Homo sapiens: one gene and its partners. The main gene of each other region encodes a partner of the protein of the gene in region 3 in a complex. Each region holds a gene or a part of one and is shown on either strand. Other genes may lie near its edges. The genes, in order: CWC15, PRPF4 and SNRPF.

Evidence for each region.
Region 1: SNRPF (region 3) and CWC15 share a complex: the UniProt entries of both Homo sapiens proteins name them as parts of the minor spliceosome.
Region 2: SNRPF (region 3) and PRPF4 share a complex: the UniProt entries of both Homo sapiens proteins name them as parts of the U4/U6-U5 tri-snRNP complex.

What each region holds. Positions count from the first base shown.
Region 1 is NC_000011.10:94,966,805-94,970,556, forward strand, and holds part of CWC15 (spliceosome-associated protein CWC15 homolog), read right to left. Parts: intron 3,293-3,752; coding exon 3,185-3,292; intron 1-3,184. UniProt on the Homo sapiens protein: Involved in pre-mRNA splicing as component of the spliceosome. Component of the PRP19-CDC5L complex that forms an integral part of the spliceosome and is required for activating pre-mRNA splicing.
Region 2 is NC_000009.12:113,278,640-113,282,391, reverse strand, and holds part of PRPF4 (U4/U6 small nuclear ribonucleoprotein Prp4), read right to left. Parts: intron 3,448-3,752; coding exon 3,261-3,447; intron 1-3,260. UniProt on the Homo sapiens protein: Plays a role in pre-mRNA splicing as component of the U4/U6-U5 tri-snRNP complex that is involved in spliceosome assembly, and as component of the precatalytic spliceosome (spliceosome B complex).
Region 3 is NC_000012.12:95,856,710-95,860,461, reverse strand, and holds the start of SNRPF (small nuclear ribonucleoprotein F), read right to left. Parts: upstream 1,511-3,752; 5' UTR 1,389-1,510; coding exon 1,386-1,388; intron 1-1,385. UniProt on the Homo sapiens protein: Plays a role in pre-mRNA splicing as a core component of the spliceosomal U1, U2, U4 and U5 small nuclear ribonucleoproteins (snRNPs), the building blocks of the spliceosome.

The DNA of each region.
Region 1 (3,752 bases), on a different chromosome or scaffold from region 3:
ACACATTTAGCAAAACTATTACCTTCATTTTAAAGGGTCATACCTAACTGTGATTAATTTTAATCTTATTTTGAATTACTAATAATGTAAACTTGTGTCTCTAGGTTTGGTGACAAGTTATGAATGAAGAAGTAACTCCTAAAATAGGACAAACTACCATATACAAAATTATATCCAGTTAACATGAATTTCTACTAATTTACCTGAGGTTGATCTATTTTGTTTTTATTGTCTTACTGAGTTTTTCTTTTTTTTTTTTTTGAGACGGAGTCTCACTGTTGCCCAGGCTGGAGTGCAATGGCATGATCTCAGCTCACTGCAACCTCCACCTCCCAGGTTCAAGTGATTCTCCTGCCTCAGCCTCTGGCACGTGCCATCATGCCCGGCTAATTTTTGTATTTTTAGTAGAGACGTCATTTCACCATGTTGGCCAGGCTGGTCTCGAACTCCTGACCTCGTGATCCGTTCACCTCGGCCTCCCAAAGTGCTGAGATTACAGGCGTGAGCCACCGTGCCCGGCCTCAGTTTCTATTTTTATACCTCCCATCCTTTATCAGTTACAACACTGTCTTTCTTCACTTTTATTTTAGCATCAACTTCTTCAAAGTCAAATCACCCTGAGTTTCCTTCTCAGAATGTGGAATATAAAATGTCTAAAATCCTTAGCTATCACTTCTAGATCTACCTGTTAACATGTTATCTTAAGCCAAATATAAATCCCATTTTGCTGTGTTTTGGGGATAACAGAAATTGATGACTTAATAGATCAAGGAAAAACAGATGGTGTGGAAGTCATTTAAAAAAAGTTATTATTTTAATAATCTAATTTTTCATACAGGTTACTGATACTTCATTTCAATATTCAAATGTAAACAATGAATTTCATTTTTATGAAGAAAAATAAAAATCAAAATGGGAGGTGAAAAGATCTAACTTGTAAGGAAATAGGAAAATTCCTTTATGTCACTGGTCAGAACTTAAATCAGGAACTATACATCACAGAACAGGTGGCTTTCTAAAAGCTATATATTTATTTGTAACAAATTATACCGATGCTTAAAGGGAAAAGATATTTCTCTGAAATACTAGAAAAATAGGAGCTTAAGTATACCATATATCCAAACTTATAATGTGTATGACATATAAAGGTTATGGACATTTTATGTTTGGAATATTATTTCCTTTGGGGTTACTGAATGATTGCCACACAGAGCACTAGGAAAAAAGGCATAAACTCTTTCTATATTCAAACAGCAGGCATACTATGTTTCATAATATAGGCTAGTCATCAGATGGCATGTAGGTCAAATCCTAACTAACTGTTTTTGTAAATATTTTATTGAAACATTGCCACACTTGTTCACTTATGTACTCTGTGGGTGTTTTTATGTTATAACAGTGGAGGTGAGTAGGTGTGATAGAGGCTCCATGACCAGCCAGCCTAAAATATTTACTACCTGGCCCTTTACAGAAAGGGTGCTGACCCCTGACAAGGGCTAAATGGTTTGAAAATCTTAAATTTGGAACATGGCAAAAACCAGCCAATAGAAAGGGAAACAGGGATAAAAGAAACTATCATTCAACCGCAAGAAATATCAACACATTTTAATACAGATATTAGATGAAACTCACAAAACTGCAAGGCCTTCTGTCTAAAATGTTTATCCTCCCTCAAGGTCAACCAAAAGCATTTAAATTGCTCATCTCTATGTGTCCAGAACTATTAGGCAAGCTAAAAAAATTTGGAACAATTGCCCTCTAGTGGTATGCAAGTGGGACTGGGAATGTTTTTATAATTCTTTGACTTTTAAAAACTAGATGTAAAAACTATAAGCTATTACAGGAATTATGCTCTCTTATACAAAACTTTGATGAGAATTGTATTTTGAAATGCTTTTCTTCTTCCAATCTGAATTCTAAGTCTTCAAAGTCTATCCCAAATTCTACCTGTTTTCTGAATTCTTCCCTGGCCCTCCTGATTCACATGAAGTCTACTTCCCTAGATTCCTGGTATTGACCATGCAGTATATTTTCTTACTTTCTTTTTTAAAAACAGAACAATTCTTGCCTCAAATAAAATTTTACACAGAAATCTATGAAAAAGCTGTGCTGCTCTGGTTGAAAACAGGGGCAGACAACCCTACCTGAATGTCTCACAATGTGTCAAATTTAACATGTTCAAAACAGAACTCATCAACTACCTCTTCTCTCTGCCTAAATATGGCAATTCTTTTGCATTCCCTGTATTGATGGCACCAACATTTACCTAGAAAGTGAGGGTCCTCTCTGCTGCTACAATCAATCAGTCACTATCTGTCAACTCAACCTCCTTTTTTATTTTTTCCTGCTCCCCTTCCCACTTTGACCTCCTTGATAATCAGCTTTATCAGCATCTAATTACTTACCTCAATTCCAACTCCTATCATACAAGCTAAGAGTCTCTTAATTGGGAGGATTACTGGAACAGCCTCCTAACTCAGTTTTTTTCCAATCCATCCTCCATATTTTGCCAGAGTAATCTTTCTAAAATGCGTATCCAGTTTTATCAATCTCCTGCTGAAATCAACCAGCTCTTCATGTCCTTTAGAAAAAATCTAGACTCCTTCAGTATTGTTTTGCAAACCTCTAATGCTCTGACTTGCACTTGCCTCCTCAGTTTCACCTCTTATTATCACTCTGGGTAATTTATTCAGAATTTTAACTATCTTTGAGTTTTATATTTTTTCCTCATATTGTGTAAACAGAGAGACTGTGGGGGCTCAGAGAAGTTAGGTAGCTTGACCTAGGTTATATAATATCTACTGACTGATTGCCTTAATAGTACCTAGGCAGTAGACAAGCAGAGAGATAATCTTTGTAGACCACAACTATATCTTGATCATCTTTGATTCTCCTGTCAATTAACAGATATCGACTAAATGTTGAACAAATGAATAAACAAGTAAATGACTAGCAAGCCTGTGAATATTACTCAGTGCATCTGAACTATTTGGAAAGAATTTCTTACATAACCAGGATACCTAGGATGTCATAAAAATAATCATTTATAGATCTACAAGTGCTATAATATTTAGACACGGTAAAGGAGATTTCTAATATAAGAAGATATTACTTATATTCAAAAAAATTTCTACCTTAGTGTATGTGAGAAGATAGATGTAAATATTTAATACTTTGGTTTTACCTTCCTGGCCTGCTCTTCAGCTCTTTCTTTTTTAATTTTTTCCAGTTCTGCAAGAAGAGCTGCAGTATCATCATCATCACTTTCTTCTTCAAAATCTTCATCTTCCTCCTAAAAGAACAGTGAGAGCCCAGAAGATTGGAGGGAAAATACACACTACCAAAACACAGTACATATGTACAACGTATCACCCTAAGAAAGTCAAAACAATTTTATGTAGCTCAAAACAACTTTAAGCTAGCAGCAAAGATACTCAAAAGTGCAAAAAAGTGTGCTAAATTCTCAGAAGAAAATAATTTCAAATGAATAATCATTAAATTTCAGTTGAAATTAGGTTTCCTGTTTTAACTATTATGAGTAACTCCATCAATTAACTCTAGAATTAACTGCTGATATGTATACATAGTTAGATATTACTCATTGGATGCCACTCAGGTTTTTCACTGTCCTGTATGTAGAAAACTGCAAATTGATTATAGGCTCTAGGGTCCCACAGAATTTTAACATTAACTGATGTGCTAATCCTTAAAAACCTTCTGCTTAGATTACTTCCCTCCCTAAGCACAGAGGG
Region 2 (3,752 bases), on a different chromosome or scaffold from region 3:
CAAGCGATCCTCCCACTCCAGCCTCCCGAGTGGCTGGGACTACATGTACACTGCTACAACTGGCTAATTTTTAAATTTTTCTGTAGAGAGAAGGGCTTGCTATGTTGCCCAGGCAAGTCTTGAACTTCTGGGCTCAAGTGATCCTCCTGCCTCAGCCTCCCAAAGTGCTGGGATTACGGGCATGAGCCACTATACCCGGCCCTCCAGGAACCTTCTTTAAGAGTCAAGTGGGGATGGCTAAACTCCCAGTGTGGTTTCTCCCACTCAGTCTTCTCTATTTGGAAATTTCCAAAATTCAACTATAAGCAATTACTCTATACAGTTTAGAGTCAATGAGCCCCTACACTGCTACCACTTGGTCTGTGAAGACTGCCAACTTTCACTCAGTGCCACAATGTACTGGATACTGACTCAGGTGCTAACTATACAGTGATGACTAGGAATCAGTTCTTGATTTCAAGTAGCTTAGTCCTGGGGAAACAACAGAGAGTACTGGCAAACTATAATCCATTATATTACCTATCACTATAGCAGTAAGCACAGAGGGCTAGAGGGGACTTTGTAACGGGCATCTAACTAAGCTTAGAGGATCAGGGAAGGCTTCATTAAAAAAAGGTAATATGTAAATTGAGTCCTCAGTTAATCAGGTCAAGGGGGTCAAGAATGAGAAAATGTCAGGCAGAGGGTTAAACAAATAAGGCCTGGAGGTAAGAAAAACATGTTGAGCTTGCAGTCACAAATAATTCAATATGGCTGGAGCGTAGAACATAGAAGAGGACTGGTGAAGAATAGGGCTGCAAATGCAAGGAGGAGCCAGGTCACAAAGAATTGCTAATGCCACGCTCAGGAGGATTTACAGATGAGAAAGATCCCTGAAACAGTACAAAGAATGGATTAAAAGGGAAGAATAATGGCAGGGAAATCAGACAGTACTGTTGTAGTGACGCTCTGAGTCACAACCGTGGACTGAAATTCAGATAGTAGCAGTAGTGACTCAAAGGATTCATTTAAGGAACATAATAATGAATAAGATAGACTTTGCTGGTGGAAAAAACAAACTAAACAATAATAAAAAAGTATACCCTTTGAAAAGGCTAATAAAATAACATACTATGACAGAGAACAGAGGGGTTAGGTGTGACGAAAGGCTTCTTTGAATAGGTGGCATCTATGCTGAAACGAAAGAATAAGAAGTTTGACAGGGATCCAGGTTAATAAAAAATGAAGAAGAAAGGCCGGGCGCGGTAGCTCACATCTGTAATCCCAGCACTTTGGGAGGCCCAGGCAGGCGGATCACTTGAGGAGGTGTTGAGAGGATCACTTGAGGAGGTGTTCAACACCTGGCCAACGTGTTGAAACCCCGTCTCTACTAAAAATACAGAAATTAGCCAGGCATGGTGGCACATGCCTGTAGTCCCAGCTACTTGGGAGGCTGAGGCAGGAGAATGGCTTGTACCTGGGAGGTGGAGGTTGCAGTGAGCTGAGATTGCACCACCGCACTCCACCCTGGGTGACAGAGCGAGACTCCGTTTCAAAGAAAAAAAAAGGAAGAAAAAAAGCCTCTAAAAGACAAGACAGAAGAATAAAAGTAGACCAATTATGTGGAAAGACATAAAAAGAACTAGCATATTCCATAAGGACCAATGTGGCTATTCTAGTAAATTGGGGAAGGGAGACATGAGTAAGGCTGAAGACCTTACAGACCATGGTAAGAGTTTTTTACTCCAAGTATGAGAAGACAATCTAGGATTTTAAGCAAGCAATTAACACAACATGTTTGGGGCTATCACAACAGTGCAGATTTGAAAGCAGTAAAGATAGAGCAAAGAAGATAGCTGGAGTTGTATCTCGCAAGTAGAACAGACCAGATTTTGCTAATGGATTATAAAGGAGGCTAGGCAGATTTTCAACTAAGAATTGTATGAGTATAGGAGAGAGGTGGGGAAATATTTCAATTCAGATGTCTCAAGTTTGAAGTACCTGTGGGATACCTAAGCTGCAGTGAGAGATTTGGGAATCATCAGAACACACAGTGAATGATGCCATGGGAGTAGAGCTGATCACCAAGGGCAAGTAGAGAAAAAGGCAGCCTGTAAAGGGCAGGCAGAGAAAAAGAGGTTTAGAAGGTAAGTGAGAAGAATTAGCTAGTGAGAGAAGAGGAAAATCAAGAGGATTTGTTATTAGGAGAGTGAAGGAAAGGGAGTAGTTCAAGGAGGGAGTATTTCAAGGAGGAGTGGCTGGCAGTATACTAGGGCTATTCTTAGTAAAGGTGGATTGGTGATCTTAACAAAGAGCAATTTTAATGTGGTAGGGGTTGGTCAGTTTGCAGCAGGTTGAAGAGTAAATAAGGGTAAGGACCTCAAGGGAGTAATAGAAAAAACCCTTCCAACAAGCTGGATGATGAAGGGTAGATGAGACAGTGGACAGAGAGACCAGAGGGGCTCCTCATAATTGTGTGTGACTAGACCACAACTAAGACTTCGCAACCTGCAAATAACAAGAGGGCATTATCTGAGGATGGTACCCCTCTTCAATAAAATCCAAGAAACATTTATCATTGTTCTATGTCATTGATATGGAATGCATTTGATGTCTCAATTTTCAAAGCCCAACAACAAATGTTTATCCAATTCAAAACTCGCACTGGGGAGGGGAGGCAAGGGAGCATGTTAGCACCCTCTTCCAAGTCTATAAAGAAAAACGGGCCAGGCACGAAGGCTCACGCTTGTAATCCCAGCACTTTGGGAGGCCAAGGTGGGTAAATCATTTGAGGTTAGGAGTTCAAGACCAGCCTGGCCAACATGGTGAAACCCTGTCTCTACTAAAAATACAAAAATATAAAAAATAACTAAAAATACAAAAAAGAAAAATGTGGTGGCAGGTGCCTGTAATCCCAGCCACTTGGGAGGCTGAGGCAGGAAAATCGCTTGAACCCGGGAGGCGGAGGCTGCAGTGAGCCGAGATCACGACGCTGCACTCAAGCCTGGGTGACAGAGCAAGACTCTGTCTCAAAACACAAAACAAAACAAAACAAAACAAAACAAAACAAAACAAAAACGAACAAACACAAAAAAGAAACATTAATAGTGCGGTAAAAATTGGCCTAAGACAGATTATGGGCTAACTCATATAAACACAGTAAGATATTGTTAACATGATTTGAGACATTCTATTAAAGTTCAACTAAATGATCAACCAAAATTTGGAGTAGAACCCTGTGATTATAATAAAGAAAAAAAGTAAATATTTAGAAAGGCAACCTTTCTCTTCTTTCAGCAGGACCCTCTCCAAAAAGTGTGATGGGTTCCCCCAAGGCTCTAAGGCAAGCTTTGACCTCTGAGTCATCTGTGGAAACATTGATCTGCCGGGCTCGCTTCCTTCTCTCAAACTCAGCCAATACTTCTGCCTGTCGCTCGCTGATATGCTCTTCAATTTCAAACACTTCTCCTATTAAAAAGAAAACAGGCAACATCAGCAGATCTTCTTCAAATAGAGAGAAATAATTTCTAGTAATTGCAGTCTGTGTATGCCCTGAGGGAAAAGTAACTGTCTATTACACATTTTATAGTTTACTGTTTTTCAGTTTATTAAATTATGCCAAACACATAAACCTAAATGACACAGCTTCAAAAGGCAAGAAAATGGTTCAAGCCACCTCTTGTTTCATTTATTAACTTTGTGCCTATATAAACACACACTTTGGCTGAGACCAGCAAGTAAGAGTACAGAACATCTTTTGCAAATGAGTTAAC
Region 3 (3,752 bases):
GGCACAAGGGTACCAAAGCAATCCAGGGGAAAAAGGAAAGGTTGCCTGAAATAAGTAATACCTCAGTTTTAAAGGATAAGAGTTTATTTCCAGAGCGGGAAAAAATGCTGTTCCAGGCAAGGCTAGCTACTTATGTAAAAGGAGGGAAGAGTGATGCAACAAGGTGGTTTTGGGGACATACAATTCAGCATTGTCAGTCAAAGCCCCAAATATAAAACTACAGAAGGAAGCAGAGGGCAGATCACGCTTGACAGTATTTAACTGGGGAAGCTAGGGCTAGGTCCTATCTGACTTTGTCAGTAGCACCGCCTCTTACTTACAGCAATTACTTAATGTCTATTTATTCAGCAAACCATTAACATCTCCAGTGATTTCGGTTTTTGCCCTCTTCTGCTCACTCACCAGTCAAACAAAGAAGAGAACTAAGAAACTTGGCTACTAACCCCCTCTAACATGAGCATATTCGGAGTGATCTTGATATGGCGATTACTCCAATAACCTAATGGGTCTCCAGTTTTCATTCTCCAATTTGTTATCCACCACAGTAACTATGATTTTTTAAAGTGCACATCAGATTGTCATATTTCTGCTTAAAATGATCCAATGGCTTCCAACCGAATCATTTTAAATTGATTTGGAGTACAATCAAAACCTCCCAATACAGCCTAAGAGGTCCTGCCCAACGCCTGCTCCTCCGATACCATCTCTTAACCACTATTCGCGCAAGTGGCTATACCTTTCTGTCAATTTCTCCAAATGACCAAGCTTTCTTTCCGGCCGCAGGTCTTATGCTCCTATTCCCTGTGCTCGGTACACTCCTCCTCCTGCTCTTTAAAGGGTCGTATTTCATGACACTTAGGCTTCGAGTTAAATTCCACCTCCTAGGGAGGCCATCTCTGACTAAGCCTCTAATGTCTAACGCGCACCCTCACAGCCTCCTGTCTGCATTGTTCTTAGCACTTATTATTTGCAATTACATACTTGTTATTTTTTGACTAATGTCTGTCTTCCCCACCCAAGTGAGTTAATCTAGAGCATGGCCGTATCATTACTTTCACGGAATGAAAGTGAATTCTGGAGTGTGGTTAAGTGGGAAGTGCAAATTCTCTTTGACTTTTACCCCGACCCTATAGCCCCAACTAAGAATACCCCAGGCCCGGATTCAAACAAAGAGAAGAAGGCACGGGCACTCCTAGGAAAAGAAAGGCATCGGGAGGAGCACGCGCCTCAGAAACCTAAAAGCAGAGTGAAAGGAGCTGGCGACAGGGTGCGCGGCGCCTCACGCGGATGAATGGGAAACGCGCGAAGGAACCAGCAGGCCCCGCGAGGCTGGTCTCCCTCCTTCTCTTTCTCCCCGCTTCTCCCGCCGTTCTCTTTCTCCTTACCATCGTAACCACGGCCGAATGTTGCAGGCTACTCTCTGCCGACCAGGCCGCCGCCCGTCCCTCGTGACTACAGCAGGTACCGCAGGTCCCGAGCCGCAGTTTCAAGAGAAATGGCCGCCAAACAGGACTATGACCTTTCACCTCCCACCACGGCCCTTCCTGCCTCTGTGATTGGACGCAAAGAGGTGCGTGCTGATTGGAGGAGATGGCTGGCCCAGTATCTCCTAGCAACCAGCAGCGGCTTGGGTTTGCGCCTTGCAGGCGGCGCGCGGACCTTGGGAAACCGGCTCTGAGCATCGCTGTGAGGCAGCCAAGGACTGGAGGCAGGCCGGTGTTTTTAAATGTGGTGTCCTTCCTAGAGGGCGGTCTGGGAGAGGCTGTGTAACGGATGTGACTTCTCCCCAACTTGGCTAATGGGGATTTACTTTGTCTTTTTACACCCGTGAGAATGTTCGGGGTCCCAGAGTTCCTTCCTCACTCTTCCAACAGGTTCCATGATTTGGGGGCGCCTCTGCCGCAGGCCCTTTCTACCTGAGTGTTCTCTCTTCTGCAACACCCGTTTTAACCCCTTTTAAAGGAATTGGGGGCTAGCCAGACTAGACTAGGGGCGGCGAAACGCACTGAAGAGAGTTGGATACAGAATTTCTTGCAAACGAGGTCGAGTTGCGTCTGGGATACGGTGTCATGCCCCACCCCCGCCCCACGACCCTGCCGGCCCCACCTTTCTTTTGCTTCGCCTGCAGAAACCCGCACGGCCTTCATACGTGCATTTGAAATTACCTAAGGGCGTAAGCAATATTTCCTCTGTCACGGATTAAAACTTTCGATGTAACGGTGTTATCTGAATCTCACTAGTTTTTGTCGTAATCCTATTGAGTTCGGGTCACTCTGATCTGAAATGCTAAATGCAGTTCTTGGAGAACACGCCCTTTGGGAAGTAACGCTTTTTTGCGGCCCTGAAGAGATGGATTTGGAGTTGAGGATGAAATGTTGGGTGTTGAGGCATTGTGGAGCAGTGGGCAAGACTTTGGAGGGGGCCTGCATTCGGAACCTGCGTCTATCAGGCGCGGCCGGTGTTGGGCAGTGTCTTAACCCCGAGGGCCATTGTTTCCTCGGCAGGAACGCGGCTTTAAAAACGGAACCATCCTCAGGGTGGTTGCGAGAATTTAACGTAAAACGGGGCTTGGCCTTGTAAAAGCTCAGTGTTTCACGTAAATGTTGAACACTGACCAGACAATGATTGTCAGTGTAGTTTTTACCAAACAGTTATTAGATTTATTCACCCTAAACTTCAGTGGATTTCTCCGTTTGTCTATTGTTTTATGAACTTTAAGTCTTTGTATAGACTTTGAGTTCCTACTATGTGTCAGGCTTTTTCAACAATCGTGGAAATCTTACCTTACTGTCTGATTCGGGGTGACAGCCCCGTTTAAGAGATGAGGAAGTAGGCCCAGCAGGTAACTGTTACCAGTTGAGGGTAGCTGTCCGAGTTCTTGGCGTTTTCAACAAAGAATTGGACAAAACGCACAAACAAAGCAGGGCAGCGAAAGCAGAGATTTATTTTAAATGAAAGTACACTCTACAGGGTGGGCACCGCCTGGTGCAAGCGGCTCAAGAGCATTGGTTATAGAATTTTCTGGGCTTTAAATACCCTCTAGAGGTTGCCCATTGGCCCACAACCAGTCTGATTGGTTGCGGGAGGGGACCAATAAGAGGTACTTTCATTTTTCAACTGCCACGCAGAAAAAGGAGGGGTTGAAATGGGAGTAGCCTCTGATACCCAGTCAGCATGGATGGGCCCTAGGTTCCCTGCTTCCAGCCGCTATTCTTCTGCCTCATAGCTTGCTCAGGACCACATACCTGGGTTTCAAAACTCTGCTTTTTCTACTTCATGAAGCTACCTTTCAAAGACTCAATATGTGTTTTAGAAGCCTGACTCTTTAGCTGTTTTCTCAGTGAAGTGAAACGAAATACTACAGTAAACACATTCTGTAAAGATAGTGTATTTAAGGTTGGTTTTTCTTTTCATGTTAAATTTTTTTTTTAATTTGAGACAGGGTCTCATTCTGTCACCCAGGCTGGATTGTAGAGGTGAGATCTTGGCTTACTGCAGCCTTGACCTCTTGGGCTCAAGAGATCCTCCCACTTCAGCCTCCCGAGTAGCTGGGACCACAGGCATGTGCCACCACACCCAGCTAATTTTTTAATTTTTTTTGTAGAGATAGGGTCTCGCTGTGTTGTCCAGGCTGGTCTCAAACTCTTGGGCTCCAGCTGTGTACCCACCTTGGCCTCCCAAAGTGCTGGGATTACAGGCGTGAACCACCATTCCTGGTCCATATTAAATTTTAATCTTAAATACCTTATTAA